Homo sapiens: one gene and its partners. The protein of the gene in region 1 interacts with the protein of each later gene in a pairwise test. Each region holds a gene or a part of one and is shown in the gene's direction. Other genes may lie near its edges.

Evidence for each region.
Region 2: the proteins of DGAT2L6 (region 1) and TMEM143 interact in binary tests that used the Homo sapiens proteins (3 or more experiments, as listed by UniProt).
Region 3: the proteins of DGAT2L6 (region 1) and ABHD4 interact in binary tests that used the Homo sapiens proteins (3 or more experiments, as listed by UniProt).
Region 4: the proteins of DGAT2L6 (region 1) and ABHD5 interact in binary tests that used the Homo sapiens proteins (3 or more experiments, as listed by UniProt).

Annotation. Positions count from the first base shown.
Region 1 is NC_000023.11:70,172,688-70,180,714, forward strand, and holds the start of DGAT2L6 (diacylglycerol O-acyltransferase 2-like protein 6), read left to right. Parts: upstream 1-4,795; 5' UTR 4,796-4,895; coding exon 4,896-4,980; intron 4,981-8,027. UniProt on the Homo sapiens protein: Diglyceride acyltransferase that uses fatty acyl-CoA as substrate. Particularly active with oleate as a substrate. Has no wax synthase activity to produce wax esters.
Region 2 is NC_000019.10:48,353,805-48,361,058, reverse strand, and holds part of TMEM143 (transmembrane protein 143), read left to right. Parts: intron 1-882; coding exon 883-987; intron 988-7,254.
Region 3 is NC_000014.9:22,594,045-22,601,491, forward strand, and holds the start of ABHD4 ((Lyso)-N-acylphosphatidylethanolamine lipase), read left to right. Parts: upstream 1-4,255; 5' UTR 4,256-4,262; coding exon 4,263-4,285; exon of another isoform or gene 4,286-4,398; intron 4,399-7,447. UniProt on the Homo sapiens protein: Lysophospholipase selective for N-acyl phosphatidylethanolamine (NAPE).
Region 4 is NC_000003.12:43,686,738-43,694,025, forward strand, and holds the start of ABHD5 (1-acylglycerol-3-phosphate O-acyltransferase ABHD5), read left to right. Parts: upstream 1-4,200; 5' UTR 4,201-4,255; coding exon 4,256-4,302; intron 4,303-4,360; exon of another isoform or gene 4,361-4,772; intron 4,773-4,779; exon of another isoform or gene 4,780-4,857; intron 4,858-7,288. UniProt on the Homo sapiens protein: Coenzyme A-dependent lysophosphatidic acid acyltransferase that catalyzes the transfer of an acyl group on a lysophosphatidic acid.

The DNA of each region.
Region 1 (8,027 bases):
CAGTCAGGTTGATAGGATGCTGCTATGGGCAAAGGCTCAGAATAGGAAAGGACACTTCCGGTTTGGGGAACTAGGCTGTATCTGGTGTGGTGTGAAAGTGATGGGAAATGAGACTTTCAAGGAGGGTGGAAACCAGTGTTTCCCTTTCTAGGGCTCTGGGTCCAGGTCCTGGGGTCTGAATTGGATCCCAGAGGCAATGGAGCCTTTGGAGTGTTTGAAACAAGGCAGAGAGACAGTAAGAGCTGTGTTTGACAGCAGCCCCTCTAACTGCAGAATGGAGACCAAAGGAAGGGAGGCAAGCAGGCAACAACCTGCTGTAGTCCAGGAGACAGTGACAAGGGCCCAAACTAGGGGGACCGACTGTTCCAGTTTGCCCAAGATTATACCAGTTTTAGCCCTGGAAGTCCAGCATCCTGGGAAACTCCTCATCCCAGGCAAACTGGGAGGGTTGGCCACCCCTCCCCCAAGACCCTGAACCAGGACACTGGAGGCCGCTGTTCCCTGGGGCCTTGCCTGCCATGAGAAGTGATCCAGTCACTACTGCTTCCAGGGGATTTTAAACGTCCCCTGTTCTGCCCTACCCTCCATCTCCACAGGCCCCTCGTCCCACCACCACTCCTGGGTCTACTTTCACTGGATTCTAGACCTAGAATCCAGTGAAACATAAATCTCTTTACGTATCTAGGCCTCCAGATACGTAAAGAGATTTGTGAGGAAATCAGCTCCACTTATCGCTTTCCAGCCTTCTCTTCTTCTACTCCCCTCCACCAACCTGAGACTCCTATCAAACTAAACCACCCCGTGTGCCAAAGCAAACCTCTGGTCTTTTGTGTATGCTGGGCCACTGTAGGAAATGTCATCCTCCCCACTTCTCAACCTGTTAGAGCACATTGCAAATACTCCCTCCCCACAGCTGAATAGGAGCGCTAGTGAACAGCTCCTGGATGGCAGACACTGCACGAGAAGCTTTTCAAACACTGCCACTACATCTCACAGCAAAGAAATAGGATGCATCCTTTTTACCAGATGAAGAAACCAAGACTCAAAGAGAGGAAGTGTCTGGTCCAAGGTCACACAGCTGCTAGTGTTCGTCTCTGTCTCCTTTGGAATTCTCTGATGGCCCCAATCCTTGTATTGATGACATATGCACTTCTTTCATTCCCTGTCCGTGCCCCCTGCCCCATAACCCAACACACATGCAATTGTAAACCTAGAACAATACCAGACTTAGAGTAAGTAGGGCCTCAAGAAAAATTTGGTGAATGAAGGGATTAGGTACACTCCTTCTAGAATACCTAGCCTGGTGCTTGGCATTAAATAGGTTCTCCATTGTTGTTGTTTAAGACAGGGTCTTGCTCTGTCATCCAGGCTGGAGTGCAGTGGTACATTCTTGGCTCACTGCAGTCTCGACCTTCTGGGCTCTAGAGATTCTTCCACCTCAGCCTCCAAAGTGAGTAGCTGGGACTACAGGTCTGCACCACCATGCTCAGCTAATTTTTGTATTTTTAGTAGACACAGGGTTTCACCATGTTGGCCAGGCTGGTCTCAAACTCCTGGACTCAAGTGATGCGCCCACCTCAGCCTCCCAAAGTGCTGGGATTACAGGCGTGAGCCACCATGCCTGGGCCTAATGTTTTCAATTGAGCTGAAATTGTAATACCTAACCATATAAGGGTATGACAGAGGGAGAAGATCAGAAGAAAACAAATTATGGCAAAACCTCAGCTATCCAAAGCTGTCTGGAAATGAGTCATTCCAAAGGCTGAGGGTGAACCTTTGAATCAGAGCTACCCTTTCTGAATCAGAGCTTTGAATCAGAGCTACCCCTTCACTTCCACCACCCTTTCTGAGCTCTCTGGTCCCGGTCCCCTTGATCTGTTTCCTTCCACTTTTCTCCTTTCTTTGTTTTTCTGTTGCTCCTTTGAAGTTTCTTTGGGGTCCAGCTTATCACAGCCCCGTTTGATGAGCTCACGGCCGTCTCTTGGACTGCCCGTCCAGGCCTCTCTCGCCTGATCCATTTCTCCTCACTGCAGCAGGCCCTCTTCCACAGACCCCTCCCTCACCTCCCAGGGCAGGCAGGTGCTTCTCTCGTCTGTGCAACCCACAGCACCCCATGCAGGTGTCTGCTTTTACACCTACTTCCAACACTGGACTGTGAGTTTCTTGAGGGTGGGAATCACGTCAACCTTCAATGTCTACAAATGAAATTGGCAGGCCCTTTGTGCTCCTTGGCAACCCTTCCTTCTTTATTGCTTACTCTGAGGCTGCCAAGCTTCTGCTTGTTGGTTGATGAATTGTAACTGGGAAATCACGAGTGCTGGATGTTCAGGGTTTATCTGCTAGCCTAATTATCTTCTTCTTGCTCTTTCTTTGTTCACTGATGTTTATGTTATACTTGTCCATTTGGCTCAAGAGAGCTCCAGCTGGGCCAGCGTGCTCTGTCTTTGGGAGCAAAGGGTGGCCAATCTGGGTCAGTCTATCTTGCCTGAGGCATCAAGAGACCTGGTCTCCCTCACAGGTTCAACAGACATTTACTTGAGTGCCTGCTCTGCACCAGACCCTGACCCAGATGTTAGGGAGACAGAGGTAGAAAACTGTCTGGCCCTGTCTGCCTCTGGTTCCTGCATCACCTTGAGCCCTTTCCAGATCTCCTCCATTCACCCATCTGAAAGTGGAGGGGAGCGGAGACCTGATCTGTAAGGGGCGTTGGAGCTCTTGATACTGTGGATCTCGTCTGGCCTGGGCACTCTAAGCCCCTCCATATCTCTGCTTTCCCTGAGCAGAGCCAAGCCTGCCTCTCTTACCTCCCTCCCTCCTCCCGTGCAAATTCTGAGCAGATACGCTCTGATACATCTCACCTTCTATGTGGTCAAGCAGCCCCAAGAAGCAGCTGGAGAACCCCAGCTAGCCCAAGGGGAAGAAAAGAAAGAGGAGGAAGAGGAAGGTGTCGCATGTCAGATGACCATCTAGTGCACACGGGGGAGTGAAAGCACACCCTGACATACCAGAAAAGTTCCCCAAGCTCAGCTCTGAAGAGTCACATTGGTCAGTCTAATGCGGGAAGCCCAAAGCAGAGTGGGGGTGGGGAGATGACAGAGTTCCAACAATCTCCCTGGAAAAGGGACCAATGCCCCCTTGCACTTATAGAACCCTTGATACCATTTTTGTATCTCATTTTCCCAGCAACCCCTTCAGTTATGTTTAACAGATGTTTTTGACTACCTTCTATATTCAAGGCCTTCTGCTGGGAGTACTGGGCTTTTCCTGTAGGACACATTGCAACTTCAAGTGTACAGACATTTTATCTTAATTTTATTTTATTATTTATTTATTTACTTATTTTGTAGAGATGGCATCTCGTTATGTTACCCAGGCCGGTCTGGAGCTTCTGGGCTCAAGTAACCCTCCCGCTTCAGCCTCCCAAAGTGCCAGGATTACAGGCATGAGCCACCGCACCCAGCCTAACATTTTTGTGATTTTTTTTTTGTTTTAATGTCTGTCTCCTCCACTAGACTGTAGACTCAAAGAAGGCAAGAATCATGTCTGTCTTCTTCCCTACTGAATCCTCAGCACCTAAACACAGTGCCTGGCAAACAGCAGTCACTCAATAGATAGTGACAGAAAAAATATATCCAACATGGTGAAACTCTCTCACTACTAAAAATACAAAAACTAGCTGGACGTGGTGGCGCACGCCAGTAGTCCCAGCTACGCAGGAGGATGAGGCAGGAGAATCACTTGAACCCAGAAGGCAGAGGTTGCAGTGATCCGAGATCACGCCACTGCACTCCAGCCTGGGCGACACAGTGAGACTCTGTCTGGAAAAAAAAAAACAAACGAAACAAACAAACAGAAAAAAAACGGTCTGAGACCTGGGAACAGTCTTCAGTTTTCCAAAGGCTATTACACAGAAGCAAGCCTCAGCCTGAAACATATGTTACTTGTTCAATATGTGTTACTTGAACTCAGTGAGTAGTAATGACAGGAAACGGTGCCAGGCTGTGTGCTAAGCACTTTATATTCATTCACTTATCTAATCCTCAGAACTACTCTAAGAAGTAGGTACTATTATAGTCCCACTTTTACAGATGGAGAAACTGGGGCATAGAGGTTCACCACCTTGTAAGTGACAGAGCTGAGATGTGAACCCCAGCTATCTGGCTCTAAAGTCTATGCCCCTAACCTATATTACATTCTAGCAATGAATGCTCAAACTGAGCTCTAGAGAGATGTAACATTTTCCAAAGGTGTCACAGGAAGAGCATGGCAGAGCTGGGACTGGGAGCCAGGTCTTCCTTCTGTGCAATGTTTCTCCCGCTCTATGATAAGGTATCTGGCCACTGAGGCAGGTCCCTTGGGACTAGAGGCACAAAGAGGGATCTGAAGAGTCTATTAACAGATATCCGGTGCAGAAAAACAGCCCCAGTGGGCTAGGTGACTCAGCAGAAGACAAGAGGAGACAAAGGGTAACCACTAGGGCAGGAACAAGTGTGGCTGCCAAGTCCCTTTTCTTAAGCAGGGAAAGGTAGTGGGGTGCTTTTCGGAGGTCCTATTTGAGGCCCAAGATACTCTCTTCCTGCGCTGATTTATCAAGAGTGCCCCTCCCCCACAGCTAGAGCCGCCCCAGGGCCATTTCTGCTTCATTACAATTGGGCACACGTGGAGAAAGGATACTACTGGGGAGATCAATTATATTGCCTGATCTGCAACCTGATGTGTGGGTAGGAAGTTGGGGCGGGGCAGTGGAGGAAAAGTTTGGTCAAGCCTGACAAAACCCCAGCAGCTAATCTTACTCCACAGTAAGAGATTATAGCAAAGCATCTATAATCAACTCAGCTTAAGAAGTTTTGACCTTCTGGTTAGGCTTCTTGCCACAACAGAACAGCACCATAACCATGGCTTTCTTCTCCCGACTGAATCTCCAGGAGGGCCTCCAAACCTTCTTTGTTTTGCAATGGATCCCAGTCTATATATTTTTAGGTGAGTGAACCCCAAGGGCTGGAGAGCACATGGGGAACAAACCAAAAGAGTGGCCAATCTCCAGATGAGGAGGGTTCCAAAGAGATCATCTGGGTGATCTCCACCCTCTGGGAAGGATCTGGCTGGCACAAAGGCCAGGAGTGAGGCTGCAGCTGTTCTGGTTTAAAGATTACTCCAGGCCAGGCACGGTGGCTCAGGCCTATAATCCCAGCACTTTGGGAGGCCGAGGCAGGTGGATCACCTGAGGTCAGGAGTTTGAGACCAGCCTGGCCAACATTGTGAAATCTCGTCTCTACTGAAAAAAAAAAAAATACAAAAATTAGCCAGGCATGGTGGCATGCACTGGTAATCCCAGCTACTTGGGAGGCTGAGACAGGAGAATCACTTGAACCCGGGAGGTGGAGCTTGCAGTGAGCCAAGATCGTGCCACTGCACTCCAGCCTGGGTGACAGAGCAAGACTCCGTCTCAAGATGAAAAAAAAAAAAAAATCACTCCAGTCTTCTCAGGAGCTGTCCCCTATGAACTAGCTGAAAAGAGTCATATTCAGGGACAGGGCAGAAGTGGTGGTGGCTTACAGAGTTGGTGTTACTAGGTAGGTGTAGGGTGATTTTCTAGTCTATGGTTATGGTGAGACAATTCTGGAAAATCTGAGGGCTGCCTGAGTGACATCTCAGACAGAATTTTGAGAAAGAGCCAGTTGTTCTGTGGACTCACAGCACAGAAGTCAACAATGTTGGGCCTCTCCCACCCAAGGCTCTTCTGAGGCAGCTTTTTTTTGTTGTTGTTGAGATGAAGTTTCACTCTTGTCGCCCAGGCTGGAGTGCAAACGGCAAACGGGCTGACAGCTCCAAGATTTTCCCTGCCAGAAACCAGGGATTTGGGGGTGGTCAATTACAGGTGCAAGCTTGAAAACTGGATGAGGAGAAATAATGTCATCCTGAAGGATGAGACAGGTAGGAGACAGCTGGTTCCAACCCATGGGAGGCTATATGACCCTTAGAGCAGAGGCTCTCAACCAGGGTCCTATAGACCAAAAATTCAGGGTGGATGGGGGTTACTTTGAATTGGGATGAATAAAACTGCCTCTTTCTTTCCACTAACCTCTAACTGAAATGTAGTATTTCCTTCAATGATGAATGTAGGCAATAAACCACGAAGTGTTAGGAGTACCTGTGAGTGTCAGTAACAGACATCACAGAGATTTGCATTTCATATTATAGTTGTTGCAGGCATCTCGAAATTTCATTTATGTTCACGACTACTTCAAAATTCCAGTAGTTATTGGCACTGCTGTTAGATCTGGTTATTTAATGCATACATCAAGAAGCACATATGTTACTATATTATATTGTGGGTAATATTTTGATAACTGAATTTTAATATAATGGGTTTCCTTTGTAAATCTGCGTATTTTATTTTGTGCATTTAAACATATTATTCAGAGAAAGGGTCCATGGCTTCACCAGACTGCCAGAGGGGTCCACAGCCTTCTCAAAATGCAGACTTATTAAGCCTTATTAAAATCAAAACATGCTAAGCCCATTGATGGCTTGACTTTAGCTATATCGAGAGAAGAAAGTCATTTTGTTAGTAAACTTAGTTGTTTCTAGACTTTCATAGTTTCCTTTTGTTTTCCTTTGCATTTCCCCTAACTTCCTCAAAAAGACCCCTTTGATAAGTTCTGACCCTCAGCCAGGAAAGTGAGGAGCACAGGAATGTCCTAAGAGACTTGCTATTGGGGTGGCAGCAACCGTGTCAAATCCGGGTCCCAGAAAGAGTGGGCAGAGATGGGGCAGAGAGAGCAGGGGAAAGAGGTCAAGAGAGGATGAGCTATGTGAGCGGGTCCTTTTAGGTGTAGGGCCTGTCCCACCCAAGAATGCTCTTCTGAGGCAGCTTTTTTTTTTTTTTTTTTTTTTGAGATGGAGTTTCACTCTTGTCGCCCAGGCTGGAGTGCAATGGCAGGATCTTGGCTCACTGCTACCTCCGCCTCCCGAGTTCAAGCGATTCTCCTGCTTCAGCTTCCCGAGTAGCCGGGACTACAGGTGTGTGCCACCACGCACAGCTAATTTTTGTATTTTTAGTAGAGACGGGGTATCGCCATGTTAGCCAAGCTGTTCTCAAACTGCTGACCTCAGGTGATCCGCCGACCTAGGCCTCCCAAAGTGCTGGCTGGGATTACCGGCATGAGCCACCGCGCCGGGCCGAGGCAGTGTTTCTAATTAAAATGTACTCATTTTTCTGCCAGAAAATGATACTTTCTCATATATATTTTTCTCTATTTCATTTCCCCTCTCAAAGGACACTGTGTCCTGCTGGGTATAGGGTAGAGAGTGTATCAGACAACTGGATATGTGAGGGACCAAGAAGGTGAGGATTAGCCTCCAAGTAATGCCCCTTTACCCCCAAATCTCAACGGTTTCTAGTTGTCCCAGAAGAGCTGGAGGAGTGGAGTGGGGATGATACCTATGGGTCTTCAGTGGAAACACATAAGAATAAATGGGGCCAGGTGCGGTGGCTCACGCCTGTAATCCCAGCACTTTGGGAGGCCGAGGCGGGTGGATCACAAGATCAAGAGATCGAGACCATCTTGGCCAACATGATGAAACCCCATCTCTACTAAAAATAGAAAAATTAGCTGTGTGTGGTGGCGCGTGCCTGTAGTCCTAGCTACTCGGGAGGCTGAGGAAGGAGAATCACTTGAACCCGAGAGGCAGAGGTTGCAGTGAGCCAAGATTGCGCCACTGCACTCCAGCCTGGTGACAGAGCAAGACTCTGTCTCAAACAAAAAAAGTAAAAAATAAAAAATAAAAATAAAAATAAAGAATAAACGGGATTTTTTTTCACCTTCATTTTTAAAAGTTATTTTTATTGTGGTACAATACCTAGAACATAAAATTTACCGTTTTAACCATTTCTAAGTATGCTCTAAGTACATGTCATTAAGTACATTCACAATGCATGGCCACCATCCATCTCCAGAATTTTATCTTCCCAAACTGAAACTCTGTATCCATTACACAATAACTCCCTAATTCCCCCTCCCTCC
Region 2 (7,254 bases), on another chromosome or scaffold:
CCCAGCACTTTGGGAGGCTGAGGTGGGAGGATTGCTGGAGCACAGGAGTTCAGACCAGCCTGGGCAATATAGTGAGACTCCACCTTTACAAAAAATTGAAAAAAATTCGCCAGGCATGGTGGTGGGCACCTGTAGTCTTAGCTACTCAGGAGGCTGAGGTGGGAGGATCGCTTCATCCCAGGAGGTTGAAGATGCAGTGAGCTGAGATTGCACAACTGAGCTCCAGCCTGGGTGACAGAACGAGACTCTGTCTCAACATAATAATAATAATAATTCCATCTACTTCTGGAGGATGATATTACACTGTCAAACCGTTCCTGGAATTGTGTGTGTGTGTATTGGCTAGGAAATGTCAAAGCAAAAACTTGAACCTCCAGCTTTTTAAGCCCAGTATAGTTTTTCACTATATTTGGCTGCCTCAGTTTCAGTAAAATTGGTCAGCCCCCACCCAACCAAAACAAAACTTTTTTTTTTTTTTTTTTTGAGACAGAGTCTTGATGTTGTCTAGTCTGGAGGGCAGTGGCACGATCTCGACTCACTGCAGCCTCCGCCTCCCTGGTTCAAGCAATTCTCCAGCTTCAGCCTCCTGAGTAGCTGGGACTACAGGTGCATGCCATCACGCCCGGCTAATTTTTGTATTTTTAGTAGAGACAGGATTTCACCATGTTGGCCACGCTGGTCTTGAACTCCTGACTTCAAGTGATCCACTGCCTCGGCCTCCCAAAGTGCTGGGATTACAGGTGCGAGACACTGCGCCCAGCCCCAGAACAAAACTTCAAAGTCCAGAGCTCTGATTGTGTAGTTAGGCAGCCAGGGAAAGAATTCTTTCCCTCGGGGAAGGGGAAAAGGCCTACAGAGAAGTTTTGCTTCCTGAGGTAACAGGAATTCCACTCGAGTCCGGCAGAGAAGGCGGCTTTGGAGGCGTTCTCGGCCCACGTGGACTTCTGCACCCTGTTCCACTACCACCAAATCCTGGCCCGGCTGCAGGTGAGGACGGGGCCCTTCCAGCCCTGTGGTGCTTGTTCGAGCATCCGCTCATTTAGCAAACATTCCCTGACACCTTCTTGGAGCCTGGCCCTTATTTTAAGTGCTGGGGATTCAATAGTGAACATGACAGGTGAAGTGACGCCCTCATGGAGCCAACATTCCAAGTGGGGAGACAAGGAATCAAATAAATATAAAATATGATGCCTGGTGGTGATAAGTGCCATGAACAATGAGGCGGAGTAGTGAGATAAAGAGGGATGAGATGGGTCGGGCGCGGTGGCTCACGCCTGTAATCCCAGCACTTTGGGAGGCTGAGGCGGGTGGATCACAAGGTCAGGAGATCGAGACCATCCTGGCTAACACGGTGAAACCTCGTCTCTACTAAAAATACAAAAAAATTAGCTGGGCGTGGTGGGGGGCGACTGTAGTTCCAGCTACTCGGGAGGCTGAGGCAGGAGAATGGCATGAACCCGGGAGGCGGAGCTTGCAGTGAGCCAAGATTGCGCCACTGCACTCCAGCCTGGGCGACTGAGGAAACTCTGTCTCAAAAAAAAAAAAAAAACAAAGAGGGGTGAGATGGGGCCTGTTTCAGACGGGGTGGGTGGGGAAGGGCTCCCCAAGGAGGTGACATGTGGGCTAAAGGCTTAGTGAAGAGGGGGAACGAGCCTGATGAATGCCTGGGGGAGGATGTTCTTGGCAGATGGAAGAGCAAGTGCAAAGGCCCTGAGGTGAGTGGAGGCCTGGAGTATTGAACAGTGAGGAGGCCACTGTGGCTGCAGGAGAGTGAATGTGCGGGGAGGGTGGGATATGAGGGCAGAGGGGATGGGGACAGATCGTACTGGGCCTTGTGGGCCACTGTGAGGACCTTGCTTTGTTTTTTTGTTTGTTTGTTTTTGTTTCTCAGATGGAGTTTTTGTTCTGTTGCCCAGGCTGGAGTGCAGTGGTGCGATCTCAGCTCACAGCAAACCTCCGCCTCCCCAGTTCAAGCGATTCTCCTCCCTCAGCCTCCTGAGTAGCTGGGACCACAGGCGTCCACGACCTCCCCCTGCTAATTTTTGTACTTTTTGTAGAGACTGGGTTTCACCATGTTGGCCAGGGTGGTCTTGAATTCCTGACCTCAAGTGATCCACCCGCCTTGGCCTCCCAAAGTGTTGGGATTACAGGCGTGAGCCACTGTGCCAGGCCGAGGACCTTGCTTTGACTCTGAGTGAGCCGGGAGCCATGGGAGGGCTCTGAGCTGAGGAGAGATGTGAGCAGCGGATTTAGGTGTTAACAGGATTTCTCTGGCTGCAGTGTAGGGAACAGACTATCAGAGGCAGGGACATCTATGAAAGAGTCTATTATATTTGTCTAGGGGAGAGATAATGGAAGCTCCGACAAGGGTAATAGCGATGGAAATGGTGAAAAACGGTCAGATGCTGGTTATGTTGGAAGGCATCAGCGTTTTGCTGATGTGCTGGCTGTGGGGGTGTTCTGGGGAGGAAGAGAGAGGAGTAGGGGTGCGTCTCCAGCAGTTCTGGCCTGAGCCTCCTGGAGGATGGAGCTGCCATTTACTGGGATGGGGGAGACCGTGGTGGGATGGGGAGAAAGATCTGCAGGGAGGACTGAGAGCTCAGTTTTGGACTTAAGAATTTGAGCTACCATTTATTTATGAATTTATTTATTCTAATATATTTTTTTTTTTTTCTGAGACAGAGTCTCACTCTGCTGCCCAGGCTAGAGTGCAATGGTGCGATCTTGGCTCACTGCAACCTCTGTCTTCCGGGTTGAAGTGATTCTTGTGCCTCAGTCCCCCGAATAGCCAGGATTACAGGCGTGTGTCAGTACGCCTGGCTAATTTTTGTATTTTTAGTAGAGATGGGGTTTCACCATGTTGCTCAGGCTGGTCTTAAACTCCCGACCTCGTGATCTACCTGCCTTGGCCTCCCAAAGTGTTGGGATTACAGACGTGAGCCACCGTGCCTGGCCCATTCTTTTTTAATTAAAACATTTTTTATTTCAGTAGTTTTTGGGGTACATGTGCTTTTTGGTTACATGGATGAATTCTGTAGTGGTGCATTCTGAGATTTTGGTGTGCCCATCACTAGAGCAGTGTACACTATACCCAATATGTAGTCCCTCACCCCCATCCCAACCCCCCTCCCTGAGTCCCCAAATTCCATTATATCACTCTGTGTATCTTCGCACCCTCATAGCTTACTTAGCTTCCACTTATAAAGTGAGAATACGGCTATTTGGTTTTCCATTCCTGAGTTACTTGACTTAGAATAATGGCCTTCCAACTCCATCCAATTACTGCAAGAGACATTATTTTGTTCCTTTTTATGGCTGAGTAGTATTCCATGGTGTATATAGACCATATTTTCTTTATCCATTGAGCTGCCTTTTAGAAAGGCAGGTAGAAAGATGGACTTGAGGCCGGGCGTGGTGGCTCATGCCTGTAATCCCAGCACTTTGGGAGGACAAGGCAGGCGGAGCATGAGGTCAGGAGATCGAGACCATCCTGTCTAACACGGTGAAACCCTGTCTCTACTAAAAATACAAAAAAAAATTAGCCGGGCGTGGTGGCGGGCGCCTGTAGTCCCAGCTACTCGGGAGGCTGAGGCAGGAGAATGACGTGAACCCGGGAGGCGGAGCTTGCAGTGAGCCAAGATTGCGCCACCGCACTCCAGCTGGGCGATAGAGTGAGACTCCGTCTCAGAAAAAAAAAAAAAAAAAAAAAGAAAGATAGACTTGAATATGTGGATCTGGAGGTGAAGGGAGAGGTCTGGGCTGAGAAACTGCTGTGGGAGGATCTATTAATAGATGGTAGTACTGCCGGGCGCGGTGACTCACGCCTGTAATCCTAGCACTTTGGGTGGCCAAAGCAGGTGGATCAGCTGAAGTCAGGAGTTCGAGACCAGCCTTGCCAGCATGACGAAACCCTGTCTCTACTGCAAATACAGAAATTACCAGCCTGACCAACATGATGAATCCCCGTCTCTACTAAAAATACAAAAATTAGCCAGGTGTGGTGGCATGTGCCTGTCATCCCAGCTACTCAGGAGGCTGAGGCAGGAGAATCGCTTGAACCCAGGTGGCGGAGCTTGCAGTGAACCGAGATCGCGCCACTGCACTCCAGCCTGGGTGACAGAGTGAGACTCCATCTCAAAAAAAAAAAAAAAAAAAAAAAAAAAAAGGCCAGGTGCTGTGGCTCACGCCTGTAATCCCAGCACTTTGGGAGGCCGAGGCGGGCGGATCACCTGAGGTCAGGAGTTCGAGACCAGCCTCAACATGGAGAAACCCCGTCTCTACTAAAAATACAAAATTAGCTGGGTGTGATGGTGCATGCCTGTAATCCCAGCTACTCGGGAGGCTGAGGCAGGAGAATTGCTTGAACCTGGGAGGAGGAGGTTGCAGTGAGCCAAGATCGCACCATTGCACTGCAGCCTGGGCAATAAGAGTGAAACTCCATCTCAAAAAAAAAAAAAAAAAATTACCTGGGCCTGGTAGCGCATGTCTATAATCCCAGCTACTTGGGAGGCTGAGGCAGGAGATCGCTTGAACCCAGGAGGCGGAGGTTGCAGTGAGCTGAGATTTTGCCACTGCACTATCCAGCCTGGGTGACAGAGCAAAATTCTGTCTCAAAAAAAAAAAAAAAAAGGAGGGCCGGGCGTGGTGACTCACGCCTGTAATCCCAGCACTTTGGGAGGCCAAGGCTGGCAGATCACGAGGTCAGGAGATCGAGACCATCCCGGCCAACATGGTGAAACCCTGTCTCTACTAAAAGTACAAAAATTAGCTGGGCATAGTGGCGCTGTAATCCCAGTAGCTGTAATCCCAGCTACTCAGGAGGCTGAGGAAGGAGAATCACTTGAACCCAGGAGGCGGAGGTTGCAGTGAGCTGAGATTGTGCCACTGCACTCCAGCCTGGGCAGCAGAGTGAGACTCCATCCCAAAAAAAAAAAAGAAAAAAAAAGGAAAAAGGCACATGGGGCAGAATCCAAGACAGACCAGGCGTGAGCGTCCAGCTGTCCTCTCCCGGTGGAGTCATGGACGGCACTTAATTCTCCCAGCAAGATGTGTGACAACACGCAAGCAGTACTGCCAACCAGGGATGCTCCTGTAAGCCTGGGTGGCCAGGGTTTTTACTGGGGGTCAGTCACATATGCATGGTGGCTGACCTGAGACTCCAGCCCCTCCGAGGTCAAACTGATGCTCAGTGGCTCCAGGCCCTGACCATAGATGACAACATTAACACACAGCATCCAGTGTGGCCCCAGGCCCCAGGTAAACCAAGACACTCTTATCAGTCAGGACATTCCAAGGGCTTAGAGGTTCCCTCCCAGAAGCTGGTCCAGGGCCGGTCCTTTCTTTGGAATGTGCGGGGTTTGGACAACCCAGGCCTGCTGCATTCACCCCTCGCCACATCCCACCACTGCCTTCTGCAGCTCCGCACTTTGCTTTGAATAATAACAACCCCAGCAACAGTGGCCATCACAGCCCCTTGTTGCTGAGCGCTTGCTGTGTCTGGCTTATTGACTCCTTCCTGCAGTGCGGAGAGACAGCCGCCATCAGCCCATTCATACATGGAGAAACTGAATGTCTCAGAGGGCCCGGGTTGTGCCCAGGATCACACAGTTCATAATTGGTGGAGTCGAGATCAAGCCCCCGTCTGCCTGCCTCCAAGCTCTTCCACAGGGCACCTATGGCCTCTGGAGCCACGGTTGTTTTTTTCTTTTTCTATTTTTTTAAAAGTTAAGGCTGGGCTTGGTATGTCTTGTCTGTGATCTGAGCACTTTGGGAGGCCGAGGTAGGCGGATCACTTGAGCCCAGGAGTTCGAGACCAGTCTGGCAAACGGTGAAACTGTCTGTACTAAATATATAAATATCAGTCGGTTGTGGTGGGGGGTGCCCGTAGTCCCAGCTACTCAGGAAGCTGAGGCATGAGAATCACTTGAACCATGAGAATCACTTGAACCCGGGAGGTGGAGGTTGCAGTGAGCCAAGATCACGCCACTGCACTCCAGCCTGGGTGACAGAGCAAGATTCTTAAAAAAAAAAAGTTAAAAAAAGCCTATTTTATTATAGAAATGTATAAATATATAGAAATGTAGAAAGAACATAAGTGAATAAGCATATATCTCCCAGGCAGGAGATTTTAAACAGAGGCAGGGGCAGGGTAGAAGTGGCAGAGGCGGGTGAGGCCCGCTGGGTGACCATTTGCTGATGACTTAAGTCCTTTGAAGATGTGGCCTGGGCAGGGAAAGAAGCAGCATAGCCTCGGTTCAAACAATAGCTTGGTTGTTCACTAGTGGTGCGGGTGACCTTGGCGGGTGACCTCTCTCTGATCTTTTTTCGCTGATTCATTCATTCATTGAGTTCGCTCAGTAAATATTTATTGAGCACCTACTGTGTCTCTGGAATGGCTTGAGGCTCTGGGAGACAGTGGACAGCATGAGAGATGTACCTCACAGGCTCTGTTCTACTGAGGAAGAGACCAGCAACAAGGTACAGAAGTGAAATTTGGCCGGGCACAGTGACTCACGCTTGTTATTCCAGCACTTTGAGAGGCCGAGGTGGGCGGATCACTTAAGGTCAGGAGTTCGAGACCAGCTTGGCCAACATGGTGAAACCCCATCTTTACTGAAAATACAAAAATTAGCTGGGTGTGGTGGCGGGTGCCTATAGTCCCAGCTACTCGGGAGGCTGAGGTAGGAGAATCACTTGCACCCAGGAGGCGGAGGCTGCAGTGAGCTGAGATCGCACCACTGCACTCCAGCCTGGGTGACAGAGCAAGACTATGTCTCAAAAAAAAAAAAAAAAAAGAAAAAGTCTGGGCGCGGTGGCTCACGCCTATAATCCCAGCACTTTGGGAGGCCGAGGCAGGTGGATCACATGAGGTCAGGATTTCGAGACCAATCTGGCCAACATGGTGAAACCCCGACTCTACTAAAAATACAAAAATTAGCTGGGTGTGGTGGCACATGCCTGTGATCCCAGCTACTCCGGAGGCTGAGGCAGGATAATTACTTGAACCCGGGAGGCGGAGGCTGCAGTGAGCCAAGATCGCACCACTGCACTCCAGTCTGGGCAACAGAGTGAGACTATGTCTCAAAAAAAAAAGAAGTGAAATGTATTAAAAGATGTTTCCTTGTGGAGGCCCTGAGAGGGAAGCATCTATGGTGTCTCTCCTGGCTTCCTGTAGCTGCCAGCAACCCTTGGTGCTCCTTGGCTTGTAGATGAGTCACTCCAACCCCTGTCTCCATCTTCCTGTGGCTGCCTTCT
Region 3 (7,447 bases), on another chromosome or scaffold:
ACTTGGTTGGGGAAGCCAGTGAGCCACGAGTCCTGATGGTCGGGGAAGAAATAATAAGGAGTCCAAGCTGTCTTCTTGCCCTGAGTTCCTGGGTGGGGGGCGCTGCAAGATCAGATGAGCCAGTTCATCAATCTGAGTGGTACCAGCTGATCCATCAAGTGCAGGGGTCACCAAATATCTCAAGCACTGATCTTAGGAGCAGTCTAGGGAGGGTCAGAATCTTGTAGCCTCCAGCTGCATGACTCCCAAACCATAATTTCCAATCTTATGGCTAATGTTAGTGTTACAAAGGCAATCTAGTCTCCAGGCAACAAGGAAGTCAGCCCCGGGAAAGGGCTGTTATCTGTCACAAACCACAAACTATAAACTAAGTTTCTCCCAAAGTTAGTTCAGCCTATGCCCAGGAATGAACAAGGACAACCTGGTTAGAAGCGAGATGGAGTCAGTTAAGTTAGATCTCTTTCACTGTCTCAGTCATAATTTTGCAAAGATGGTTTCAGATTTGTCAAATTAATTTCCATCCACACTTGTTGGAGTCTCATACTTGCTCATGGTGTGCTTTGTCCTGATGATAAGGAGAAAAAAAATAACTTACATTTTCTCCCCAGAGGCCTGCCTTAGAGTAGGCTCCGAGAGTCCTCTTTACTCTGTGTAATTCTAGCAGATCCGTCCTGATCCTGAGATACATCAGCACTGGGGATACCTTAAAAACTGTGGTAACTTTGGTTATTAAAGGCATTTTCCATCCATTCAAGTTTCCTACTTCCAAGAAACCTCTACTTTAAAGCTGATTTCGCACATGAAAACAAAATACAAACACTTCTCTGCACTCCTGAGAAATGGTCTAGAGAGATCTAATACCAGTTCATGTGTAGTCGTCCTTGCCTAAAAAAATCTCACAACTTACAGGTTTTCAGAAAAGTGGGAGATTTTATTGTCCTGTCTGGGAGTGATACAGTATGGAATTTTCTATTTGGTACAATTTAGAATGTAGCTCCCAAAGCCTTTGACACTTAGTATATTGTTTCATAGGTAATTGTTTATGCTTCTGCCTCTTCACTAGACTTTTCTTCATTTACCCAACAAATATTGAGTGCCTACTCTGCCACACTTTGTTCTAGGTGTTGGGAGCACAGCAGATAACAAGACAGAGAGGGTCCCCCAGGAAATTTATTCTCTAGTGGAAGGAAACTGATAATAAATGAGTAAAAACAATGCAAGATAATTTCAGATAATGTTATGTGTTATGAAGAAAATAAAAATAGGGTAATGTGACAGAGTGATGGGGGGCTCTCTTTAGATCCTGTGGTCAAGAAATGCCTCAGATGAGGGGAAGTTTGAGCTGAGCTCTGAATACAAAGTTATCAGCTCTGCAAAGCCAAGAACAGCCTAGGGTAGCAACAGATAGAAAGTCTGTGTTTACCACTAGAGCAGGTTGTTTATTTCCTTTTGATAATTGCTTTTATTTATTTTTTCTTTTTTTAGAGACAGAGTCTGACTCTCACCTAGGCTGGAGTGCAGTGGTGGGATTATAGCTCACTCTAACCTCTGACTCCTAGACTCAAGTGATCCTCCTGCCTCACCCTTCGGAGTAGCTGTTACTTTTGGTGTGCATTGCCATGCCCAGCTAATTTTTTTCATTTTTGTAGAGATAGAGTCTTGCTATGATGCCCAGGCTGGATAATTGTATTTTTAGTGCTCAACATAATTCTTGGCATTGAATAACAGCAACAACAAAAATAAGTAATATTCGTATCACAAATAAGTGTACCACATGTTTATTTGAATTATCTTGGTTAGTTCTCACAAGATACAAGCCAGAGGAAGAAATTAAGAGATGCTAAATAACTTGGCCAAGGATTTACAGTGGATAAGTGGCAAAGCAAATACTGAACTTAACCAGGCTTCATGACTCCAGAATCTATACTTCTAACCAACCAGTGAGTCTCGTGGAGCACCAGTATCTGCGGTGCTTCCTAAAAATGCGGCTTTCTAGCATCAAGCCAAACCAGCTGAATCTGAATCTCAGAGGGTAGGTGCTAGAAATCTGAATTTTTTTTTCCAAGATGGAGTCTTGCTTTGTCCCCCAGGCTGGAGTGCAATGGCACGATCTCAACTCACTGCAACCTCCTCCTCCCGTGTTCAAGCAATTCTCCTGCCTCAGCCTCCTGAGTAGCTGGGATTACAGGCACGCGCCACCACACCTGGCTAATTTTTGTATTCTTAGTAGAGATGGGGTTTCACCATGTTGGCCAGGCTGGTCTCAAACTCTTGACCTCGTGATCCATCTGCCTCGGCCTCCCAAAGTGATGGGATTACAGGCGTGAGCCACCATGCCCAGCCCAGAAATCTGAATTTCTAATAAATCCACCAGATGATTCTATGCATACTGAAGTTTAGAACCACTGTGCTTTGTTGAAAGATTGAACGAAGCCAAGTTTGTTGGCTCACCCCTGTAATCCCAGCACTTTGAGACCCCAAGGCAGAAAGATAGCTTGAGCCAAGGAGTTTGAGACCAGCCTGGGCAAAATAACAAGACCCCATCTTTACAAAAACTAAAAAAAAAATTAGCTGGGCACATGTAGTCCTAGCTACTTAGAAGACTGAGGCAAGAGGACCCCTTGAGCCCAGGAGTTCAAGGCTGCAGTGAGCCATGATCATGACACTGCATTCCAGCTTAGGTGACAGTGAGAATCAGTCTCAAAAAAAAAAAGGTTGCATGAAAGAGACAAGTCCTCTGCTAGTTGAACTACTTTGTACCACATCTGGCAAATTCCTAAGCCCCTAAACTCTATAAATGCTGGTTCTCCTAAACGTTAAGTCTTTATAATGATCAGCTTAACACTGTGTTGCTACAAAGAAGAAATCTCAGAATCATCTGGGTCCTGCAGGAAGGCTAAAGAAAAATGCTTTGATAAACCCCTGTGCACCAGCATTCTCTCACCCATCCTCCACCACTCCCCAGTCTGGTTTTTTTTGTTTGTTTGCTTGTTTGTTTTTGGTTTTTGAGATGGAGTCTCACTCTGTCTCTCAGGCTGGAGTGCAGTGTCACAATTTTGGCTCACTGCAACCTCCGCCTCCTGGGTTCAAGCAATTCTCCCTGCCGCAGCCTCCCCAGTAGCTAGGATTACAGGTGCCTGCTACCACACCTGGCTAATTTTTTGTATTTTTAGTAAGAGATGGGGTTTCACCATGTTGGCCAGACTGGTCTCGAACTACTGACTGCAAGTGATCCACCCACTTTGGCCTCCCAAGGTGCAGGGATTACAGGCGTGAGCCACCGCGCCCCACCCCTAGTCTGGTTTTAACTAAGGGGATGATCTGAAATCTGACAGTTCCAGGGAGGTCAGGCCCTGTTTACCGGTACAAGCAAATTCAGCAGCCAGCCTCAAGATTTAGCTCCTCTGCTGAGCAAACTGAAGTGCACTCAGGACCTCTGGGCCAAGCCAGCCTTATCTCCCTGTCCCCGCATTTACATACCGAAAGGAGACCTAGCCTTATTGGTGAGTCCTTCAACTGTTATCCTCCAAACTGAGGGTGACCTGGAGTTGAGCTATATTTTCCCTGGAAAATAGGTTGGGGTCAGAGTCAACATCAGAGCAGAGATATGCCCATTTTGGCAGATGTCATATAGGTTTAGGTTTGCCAGAGAAAATACAGGATGCCTACTTATGTCCCAAATACTGCATGGCCCATACTTATTCTAAAAAAGTATTTGCTTTATTTAAATCTGGAATTTACATTTAACTAGGTGTCCTGTATTTTAGTTTCGAAATCTGGCATCCAGGCCCTTTGTAGGAGCATTCAACCAATGGCGTTGTCTCCACAAACATTTAAGCCTCTTACTAGAAGGAACATTAACAAGGGTCGATTTCAGGAGGACACAGTTACAATGGGAAGCCCAAAGAGTGGGTGCGAGCGTGCAGGCGTAGTTCTACCACTTTTTAGTTATGAGAGAAGGGAGGGCTGTCGGAGCTCCTGCAAGGACTCCCCCAAATGTGTGACCAGGATTACTGTCCCATTCTGAGACCGTCAGAGACATCTCTGCCGGGACACATGCCAGTGATTGAAAACACAGCAAGGGCCCCACTAGCTGAAACCAAGTTGCAGAGTTTTGAGGGTCCCACCGCCGACCGCCGGCCCGCCGCGAGCCCTGCCCCCTGCGCGGCCACGCCCCCTTGCTCCCCGCGGCCTCCCGGGTCAGCTGGTGCTGGCGTCAGGCGCTGGGCGGGCTCGCCAGGACCTGGCAAGGCTTGTTTACTATGGCCGATGATCTGGAGCAGCAGTGAGTTAATCCTGTCCCTTTCTCTCTTTCTCTCTCTCTCTCTGGGCCATGATCCTGGGACTGTCTGTGGCTGAGGAACAGTTGTAGACACCTTCCCGCTCTTCCTTTTCCAGGTCGGCCTCCGGGGAGGGCGGGGGGTGGGTGCGTTGCTTGCTTTGCATTTGCCCAGAAGAGGCAGCGGCTGAGCCTGGGGAGCCATGGGAGACGCGCTCGCCCGCAGCCCGGGGATCCTGGCTTTCTACCTTAGTCCTCGCGAGTGCCCCTCATTCTCCTCTGGCCTCTGGAGAGATTCCATGTTGATGTGTGAGATCCCCGAAAGCAAGCTTGTGGGACGCGGGTGCGGAGGTAGCAGCCAGGCGTGCTCGTCTCGACTTGCCCCCCAGAACGGCAGTCGTGGGGATGGAGAGAGCCTCCTCCCTCCGCCCGGCAAAGAGAAGATGTGGAGAGACTGGAGAGGTCTCCATCGCGCTGAAATTGGTGTGGAACAACGGGCTTGCAAGTTTCTTTAGCTGTCGCCCACCGAGACACGTAGCCGCATGTGATCCTAGTTGATAATGCTTTTAATAATCGTAACAACATCTTTAATGCAATGGTTTCAGATTTAGAGCTATTGGGATTTGCTACCACTCTTTCAAGGGCATCAGGTTTGGGATACCACCTGTAGGTGGTGTGACTAGCAGTTCGCAATCTGATAGGAGTAAGAAAAAGTTGCTACGAGAAGAATGACTCAGCTCCCAGCCGAGCCTTGGTTTCACCAGAACTGGGCCTTTCCTGGACCCAGTAATCCTGTTTTTCAGACCTGTAGAACTGGAAGTCCGGGGAACTAATTAACTTTATGACCATAATTAATAGCTTGCTGGGCTTGAAAGAAATGTCCAGGGGAATGTTTTACTTTCTAAGATGACTTTTCCAAGAGGAAATTTGCAATGCTTTAAAGGACTTAGGGAGGCAGAATATTAGAGCTGGAGGACATGCAGGTAGTTCAGCTCCTTTTTAAAAATGAAGAAGCTGGTGTCCATAGAAATTAGGAGACTTGCCCAAGATCACAGAGGTCTAGAACAGGATTCTCTCCCAGCACAGAACCCCTTGTGCTTCACCCCCATCAAGTTGACAGAGACCGTCCTAGCCAGGTTAAGTTCATGGCTGAATGTCTTTTCTGCTCCTTGCCTCAATTTCCCACTCCAGCCCTTACCTCCCGCATAGTTTTGAGCACATACAGTGTGCCAGGCACCATTTCCAGTGTTTACTTGTAACATTTTTGGTGAAGAAGGAAAGCAAAGTAATTCTCCCACCAAGGACTCTCTGCTGAGCAGTCTATGATGCTGTTCCTTGGGTAGCGTTTCTCCTGAACTCTGCTTTGTACAGTAACAGGACAATGTGGGATCCAGGTGTTATGATCTGACTTGTCACAGTCTGTGATTTAGAGAGAAAATTTGTCTCTTAAGGCTGACAAAATCCTGTGGTCTTGGTCCCCGTGCTTCAAGCCTACAAGGAATTCCAGTAGAATATTAAAAGGATTCTGAGTCTCCCTAGGATTAGATCGATTGATATTGACAACTCTCATCTGGCTAAAACCATTGATGTATCACTCCCAGCTGCAACCCCAGTTTTTCTTTCAAACTTCAAACATCCACTGAGAGTTGCTACTTGCAAAACACTGGGAATGTAGACAACTTATGATTTAGCTGGGGGGAAAGAAAGTTGATTGGGAGTTTGTGCTAGGCAATATTCTATGTGCTTTAGATGCATTAACACTTTTAATCTTTATAGCAACCCTATGAGGTAGATATTATTACCTCCCTTTTAAAGATGAGGAAGCTCTGACACAGAAAAGCTAAATAATGTGCCCACAGTCACATTGCTGGTAAGTGACAGTGCTAAAATTGGAACTCTGGCCTTCAGAGTTTAGATCACACCTCCCTTGAGAAAACAGACATAAATGTAAAAATGTGGTTATGTTCTGTGAATATTTGTACATGACCTTGAAAAGCTGAGGCTGGAAGGTTCAGGGAGAGAAACCTGGATTTGAGATAAGGGGCTCTAGTTCTGGTTCTTTTTTTCTAACTTGTATGACCTCTTTGGGCATCAGTTTGCTCATCTGTAAAATACAGAGGCTAGACTAGTTGATTCCTAAGGAAACATCCTAATTTAAAATTCTGTGCTTCAAATGATGTATCAGGATGCCCAGTGTGGGCCAAGGGGATTTGGTCATGGTTCCCCTCACTCCCCCTTAGAGTGCCCTACCTTGAATATGCCAGTGTTCACAGGCCCTTCCTATAGCTGTAGATATCTGTCCTGTAACTCAGGCAGAGTTCAAGAAAAGAGAAATATCATATGGGGTTAACAAGGAATAATACAAACTGTCATTCATTGAGCATCTCATTTGTACTGGGCATCTTACAAGTGTCCTTACATATACAGATGCTCAAAGACAGGTTATTTAATGGGCCAAAACCATTCTGCTCATCAATGATAACACTATGATTCACGTCCAGCAGGGGGGTGTGTGTGTGTGTGTGTGTGTGTGTGTGTGTGTGTGTGTGTGTGTAATTCCAAAGCTGGTGCTTTTAACCTCTACCTTGCAATGACTTAAGGTCCCTGGGTATGAAGGAGAAAACGGGATGAGTTATCTGTGTTACCGCATGTCATTAGAGGTGAGGACATAGGTGAGCTTTCTACTCATTTTACAATCTAGAAAACAAGACCAGAGGGAACCTGTGTCCTGTCAGTGAACCATAACAGAACTTGAATCCAGGTCTCTCACCTCCTCCTCCCTGCCTACCCCATCTCCATGGGTTGGACTGATTGATTACCTGAGAGATCAGTTGGGCACAACACAGTATTCCACACTTCTAGGGGCTTGGAAGAGGGCATACATAAACACCAACCAGTGCCCTGCCAGTAGGGCAGATGGCATGGGAATTTGTCCTACTGTTAAGGAACAGCTAGTACTGGGGACAGCAAAGGATAACTGAAACATTAGTTAAAAGATGCCTCTCCCTTTAATCTCCTTGAACATAAATTATGATAATCAGTAACAAGGAGAAATTAGAAAGCTGAGATAATAAATGTGACAGAGCTTTGTAAACTCTAAAGTATTATATACAGGATGTTCTGAATATCTATTGAAACAAGGGGCATGTTGTTAATACCCATTTACCA
Region 4 (7,288 bases), on another chromosome or scaffold:
GTAGCTAATGGCTACTGTATCAGAGAGTGTGGGTCTAGAACATTTCCATCATTACAGAATGTTCTAACAGACAGGGTTGCTCTAGAGCTCATTACTTAAAGGGTAGTCTGCTGATTGGCAGTAGGAACACAGGCATAACTAGGAGCTAGTTAGAAATAGAGATCTCAGGTTCTACCTCAGACCTACAGAGTCAGAATCTACAATTCAACATGATCCACAGAAGTCTGCATGCAAATTAGAGTCCAAGAAGCCCTAAAGTCATGTGATTTTTTTTTTTTTTTTGAGAAGTCACTACAGCTGATTGATGTTCAGGCCCTTCCCTTGACCCAGCTACCACTTTCCCTTATCATCCTGTGTCCTTCTTATTATCTCCCTGCCACATTTGCTTTCTCAATATGTTTTATTACAGCATTTCTTTATAAACATTTACAGGCTGGGCATGGTGGCTTACGCCTATAATCCCAACACTCTGGGAGGTCAGGAGTTTGAGACCGGCCTGGGCAACACAGTGAGACCTGTCTCTACCAAAACCAAAAAATATTTACAAAGCAGCCAGGCCATTGAAGCCCTCATAAAACATCCCCTTCTCCATGCCCTCACTCTCATTCTGGTTTGTAAGTGCTTGCTTGGCAGGCTTGTGATAAAGGCCCAGGCCCCTGTGATGGTTGTGGTATTGCTCAGCACTTTGCCTGGGGAACTACTATTGGAGGGCTGGAAATTAAAGCCAACCTGAAACCCAGTGGGGCACCAGTCATCAACCAAGTGTATGGCACACTTGGTCTTGGTGGGACAATGGCAGCATTCAGTCTTTAGGCTACAACCCTGGGGCAGAACATGCAGAGCAAGCTCTGTACTTGCTTTGGTCAGTGTCATATCTGGCCATCTGATTGGAGAGTACAAAGTAGGTACTGGCGATCTCCAAATGTAAGCACTGCTCAACCAGGTAATTGGTTAGTAGGTCACAAAAAGGAAGTTAATTTGGAGGTAGGGGACCAAGCTGGCCTTAAACTCTGAGAGGTCTGCTTTCAGGGTACCATCAAAGTTCAGGGAGGTAGTGATGGAGGAAGTCTGGTCCAAGCAGTGGTTAAAGTATGTGGGGCCCTGGGGGTATAGGTTGCAATGACATGTGTTGGTCCATTGTCTCCCAAGAAGACACAGTCCAAGGGTTCCAGGGTGGCACGGTGGTCAGGATAGAGTTGTAGGGTTCCACCATTGCTGGCAACACCCAGGGGATAGGTGGATGGCCAATTCTAGCTTGGATTTCTTGCCATTGTTGAAGATGACTCCATCAGCAGCAAGGTGAAGCTAGAACAGAGCTACTCCCAGAGTTGAGGAAGATCATGAAGTCCTGTAGTCCTATGCACTGCTTGTCAGTTTCTGCATAAACTCTAGTATTGGATCAATGGTCTCTTTCTCTCTTTTTTTCTTTCTTTTCTTTTTTTGTGACTGTGCAGCAGGCACAGGCATCTTTGAGAGCAGACTCCAGGTCCATAAAGACCAAAGCGCTACAGGAGTTGCTGCAAAATCCTAAGGTTTCATTACTGGACTCAGTACCACTGGGCTTGCACTGTGTTCCAGGCGGTAGGGTCTTCAACAGACACTCTGAGAGGTGGGATTGTAGGGCATCAGTTTCTGCAGACACACTACAAGTGTCTGGCAACACTATTGTGGAGGCTAAAGTAACTCCATCTCAGATGCTAATCCACAATGTTGATTTCTGAGTAACCCCAGTTTTGGGAAGGCCTCCAAGTTTTCTACTTTATCTATTGTTCCTTGTATAAGAGCATGTGACAGGCTGTTCTTACATTGTTATAAAGAAATACAGCTGGGCGCGGTGGCTCATGCCTGTGATCCCAGCACTTTGGGAGGCAGTGGAGGGAGGATCATTTGAGGTCACGAGTTCAAGACCAGCCTGGCCAACATGGTGAAACCCCATCTCTACTAAAAATACAAAAAATTAGCTGGGCGTGGTGGCGGGTGCCTGGAATCCCAGCTACTCAGGAGGCTGAGGCAGGAGAATTGCTTGAACCTGGGAGGTGCAGGTCATAGAGAGCCAAGATCATGCCACTGCACTCCAGCCAGGGCAACAGAGTGAAACTCCGTCTTAGAAAAAAAAAAAAAAAGAATTACCTGGGACTGGGTAATTTATAAAGAAAGGTTAATTGGCTCATGGTTCTGCAGGCTATACAGGTGCTGGTATCAGCTTGGCTTCTGGAAAGGCCACAGGGAGCATTTACTCACGGCAGAGGGCAAAGCGGGAGCAGGCATCTTACATGACTAGAGCAGGAGCAAGAGAGTGAGGGGTAGGTGCCATACACTTTTAAACAACCAGATCTCACAAGAACTTACTATTGCAAGGACAGCATTAAGGGGATAGTGCCAAATCATTCATGAGAAATTCACCCCCAGAATCTAATCACCACCCATCAAACCCCACCTCTAACACTGGAGATCACAATTCAACATGAGATTTAGAGAGGACAACACCCAAATTGTATCAGAGCACATACTTACCTACCTGCCCTTAGGTCAAAACAACCTTAGTCTGGGAGGGTAACAGCACAGAGATTTACCTGTCTTGCTGCTGTCCAAGACCATGCTTCTGTCCGTAAGTTCCCTAATAAATCACCTTTTGCTGACAAGCTGGATTTGTCTCCTTCATTCTTTAGTTTCTCAGCTCCTTCTGTATTTGGAGGTCACTTTGAATATACGGCCCTTTCATGAAACAACCAGGAATTCCTGTAAAAATGTTTTTTATATGTTCTGGTCTTCCCTAAAATATTTTATGAATTAGATCAAACACAATAAAAAATGTATTAGTTATTACTATGCCTAAGAGATTATAAGTGGCTTTCCCCCCTCTAAATTACAGAAGACACCATTCCTATCCTAGAGGACTTTCTCGTGTAGTTGGAAAGATATTCGATAATGTTTATTTAAAAGCTGTAACAATTACACAAGGCTGAGAACCTGAGAGCTAGATGGGTGATAAAGACAGGTTTACAGTGGGGCTCAGAGGAGAGAAAAAGAGGGAGGAGAGTCAGGGAAGGAGAACAATGAACTGAGTCTAAAATAAAGGTTAATATATTCGCGTAGGATCTATCAAAACAGGAGCAGTATTTCAACCCATTGTTTTCAAGCACCTAGAACAAAGTGAGCCCATAGTAGACACACACCAAACATAAATGGATGAGTAGTAGTGGGTGGCAGAATTCCAAAAGCAGGTTGCACCTGATTGCTAAAAGGCTTGAAAACAGGTCAAGAAATACTGCTATTTAGGTTAGTCATTTCACCTCAATAACTCGAAGTACCTAAACATAGACTTTTTTTTTTTTTTTTGAGACGGAGTTTCGTTCTTGTTGCCCAGGCTGGAGTGCAATGGTGCGATCTCGGCTCACCGCAACCTCCGCCTCCCGAGTTCAAGCGATTCTCCTACCTCAGGCTCCCGAGTAGCTGGAATTACAGGTATGCGCCACCGCGCCCGGCTAATTTTGTATTTTTAATAGAGACGGGGTTTCTTCAGCTCAGGCTGGTCTCCAACTCCCGACCTCAGAAAATCCGCCCGCCTTGGCCGCCCAAAGTGCTGGGATTACAGGCCTGAGCCACCGCGCCCGGCCAACACCGACTCTTTTCACCCTCCCAGGTATCTAGAGAGTCGAGTGGGAGGGAAATTGCTGGCTCTGGCCACTACAGTAACATCAGCACCTAGAGCAGTGCTCAACTGACTGAAGGCTCCTGTGAGTCGCCCTCTCCCCCTGGCCCCCCAACCCGCGGGGAAAGGCTGGCGGGACGCCACACAGCACCTCGATTACGCCATTTCATTTGCCACTGCACCATCTATCGGACACTAGCTAGGCTCTTCCAGGACCGGACGCACCTCCGTCCCCAAGGTGCCACCTGACAGCCAACACCGACGGGGTGATGCATGAATACAGTCATTATTCAAATTAGCTAAAACACCTAACTCATTCGGGTGAGTCTCGCCAGTCCCTCTGGGCTGACTGTCCCGCCCCGCGCTTACACCCGGGAGCGTCGGGCGGGAGAACTAGTGCATGCTGGCTGGGGATGGCGGACGCAAAGCCGGAGGCAAGGCCGCGCACGCGCAAACGCGGGCGCGCCGCCGGGCCGTGCTAGTGCGCGGAAGACGCATGCGCTGGCGGCCTGCGCCGCCTTAAGTGCCGCGCCAGCCCGGGGCGGCCCAGTCGGCCTGTCAGCCGGCTTCGAGATAAGTCCCGGCGCTTGCGCGGCGGCGGCTATGGCGGCGGAGGAGGAGGAGGTGGACTCTGCCGACACCGGAGAGAGGTAAGCGCAGCCGGCAGGGGGCTTCGTGTGTCTCCGGCGCGCACCCTCCGCGCGGGCCGGGTTAGGGCCCAGCGGGCAGCACCAAGGAGTCGCCGCCCGCCTGGCGACGACGGGCGGCTTCCTCGACCCTCCCCGGCATGAGTCCGCGCGGCGCCCAGAGGCGTCCCGGCGCCGCTCTGCCTGGGAGAGGCTCCCCTCAGCGTCGGGGCCCCGAGGTGTCTGAGCCGGACTCCGGCCGCGCCGGGAGGCCGCCTTGACCCCGCGCGGAGGGTCCGCCCCGTTGTTGTATAAGCCACCCCGCGGGCCGGCGACGGAGCTGGCCGCGGCGGCCGCACCGGCTCGGGCTCTGCCAAGGGACCCGGCCTGCCCCAATGCCGCCGGCGGGCGGTGCCCGGTCGACCCTGCACCTGACTGCGAGGCGCGGGAAATGACCGGGTCTGTCAGCCTCCCATCGCGGCTTCCGTCTACAGGTACTACCTGTGCTCTGTCCAGCCTCAGCCACTGGACGATCCTTCCCGTAGCCGTAGGAAGGGGCGGCGCTTCCTTGGAGGGGATATTAGAGGCCCGAATTCGCCCGGGAAGCGGCGGGAGGGCGGGGGTGCCGGGAAGGAGGGAGGGGAGAAGGAGTGAGGGAAGTGGGTGTATGGCTGTGAGTTTCAGATACTTCATAGAAAGAAAGTTAGCCCTTAAGATAGAGATACACGTTCAAATGTCATAATTCATCTTTCGGATGAAGGTCTTTGGCTTGCAAGCTCCACTGTCCCTTATTTGTTTGCGCTTCTGGGATTATTCTGGCTTTACTGGCGAAGTGTGTGTTGCATGTGCCTTAGAAGAACACACATAATGTATAGGAAACTGTGGAAGTTGGAGGGCAGATGTCTAATGTGAAACTTTTTTATATACAGGTATAGTGAGTTTATTCTTTTCTACACCTAAATGACTTCTTGCACTTGTTAGTAGAAGAATAGTAGTTAATGAGTGGAATAATTAAATTGTTATGGAGGTTATTGCCTTGTTTCTCAAGGCCTGTCGTTTGTATTGGAAAGTAAACTTCCCCCATATATATTTAATTTTTTGACGTCGGTTCTACTTCAGACGTCTGGAGAAATTTGCCTAGGAAACATAACCTAAATGATAGAATATGGAGTACCATGAAGACAGGGATATTTGGAAAGATGTCATGGGGAAAAATTGTGAAATATTAGAAAGGAAGTTATTCTCTTGAGTTTTGTTTATTTGTTGAGGTTTGTTGATGAACTTCCTCGTTGCACTGAGGTGAAATGTTGAATGTCATGTGGACGCAAGTAGGAACGTAATTGGTAGGTTGTGTTCTCATCTTGTTTGTCACAACATTTTTGACTCTTGACACTACTTTCAGGTGGACTATTTGGTTTTGATGTAGTGGGGCCTTGGAGTCCAGGACACAATCGTGAAAGGGTTTTATGGCTTGGAGTGATGGTTGGAGGTCATTGGAGGTAGATGATTAAAAAATCCTTAGCAGCTGATCAGCCATAGTTTCTAGACAGAAGTGGGCTTCGCTGGTATTCTTGGCAATATGCTTTAGCAGTGTCCAGTGACTATCCCCAGAAGTGATCCTGTTAAATCCAAGGTTGCCCCTGTGTGCTGGGTATTATTGTTCCCATTTTGCAGTTGAAACTGCCACTGTAAAGGCTGCTAACAGCCTGCCAGCAAGTAGCAGGGCTGGATTGGAACCCTTTGTGGAACCCTTTGAGGTGTCTGGATTTAATCTAAGGTGCTTACCCTGTATCCCTGCTGCCTGTCACTGGAATTGGGACTCATGTGGGATGTTTGGCTCTTGTTTGAATACAGTTCCCTACCCTTAAGACATTTGAGGTTTAGATAGGGAGATAACATTAACAAAGGAAAGTTATAAAATGGTCATCTGATGGCTTTTTGGAGAATATGATTCTTGTCCTTTGCTTTGTGGCACTTAGTGAAGACAGGCATACTGGGATCCATTTTGCTTTCAACATCCAACCCCTTTCAGTTGCAATACAGTTGAGAAAGCTAAATGTAATGAGAGTAGAGTAGACTTCTGTGAATTGCTTTAAGTTGTCCTAGAGAATGATTTAGTGTCAATTGAGTTGAGAGAAAGCTGTCACAGAATTGCTCAGTTGCAGGGTAGACCATAAAAGAGGTGATTTGCAGTTGTGTGCTGGAGTTGATTTGTACCAGCAAGCCATTGCTAAATTTTCAGGAATTTTGCCAACGGTTGGCAGCTTGAAATTGGCCATGGTGGGAGTATTTACACCACGGAAATCATCAAATGCTATAAATAAGGTATAAATAAGGGATTTTTCTCTCCCCTCCCTGCTTCAGTTTGTTTGCCAGCTCCCCACTGGGTTTACATTAGACTGTGAATGTAGGTCTTTGCCTTGGAGATAGGAGAGTGGATTTCTCTATCTAATCTTTTTAAAAACTGGCAAGATATGTGCCTTTCTCTCTGCTGCCTTCTCTCCTTCCCAAACCTTTGCCACCTGATATCTTAAAAATCACAAAACTTTTCACTGCCACATCCCAATGGCCTTCTAGTTTTTTTCAGTACTTCTTCTTGGGTCCTTTTTGGTGTTTGTTACTGTAATGATAGCTACTACTTTTTGAAACTCTTATTAGACATTCTAGGTCTTAATGACATTTTGCCTTTTATCTTACCTTACCTGACCAACAATAACTTTTATTAGTTTCTCCTCTTTTTTTTTTTTTTGCATTCTCTAAATGTAGTCATTTTCCAAGATTCTGTCATCATCCTTGTTTTTATTTTTCATCTTGTTTACTCAAACGTGAACTGTCTTGTCTGTGGAGATGACTCAGATCTCATTTTCTTTCTGGAGCCCTCTTCTGTACTCTGGTAATGTTTCTAATTGTCAGATGTTTGTGCCTGATTCCTCAAATTTAACATGTCCAGACCATGATCTTATTTTTACCTTCCTGCTCCTAAACTAAACGATATAAAAAGCTTAGTTCT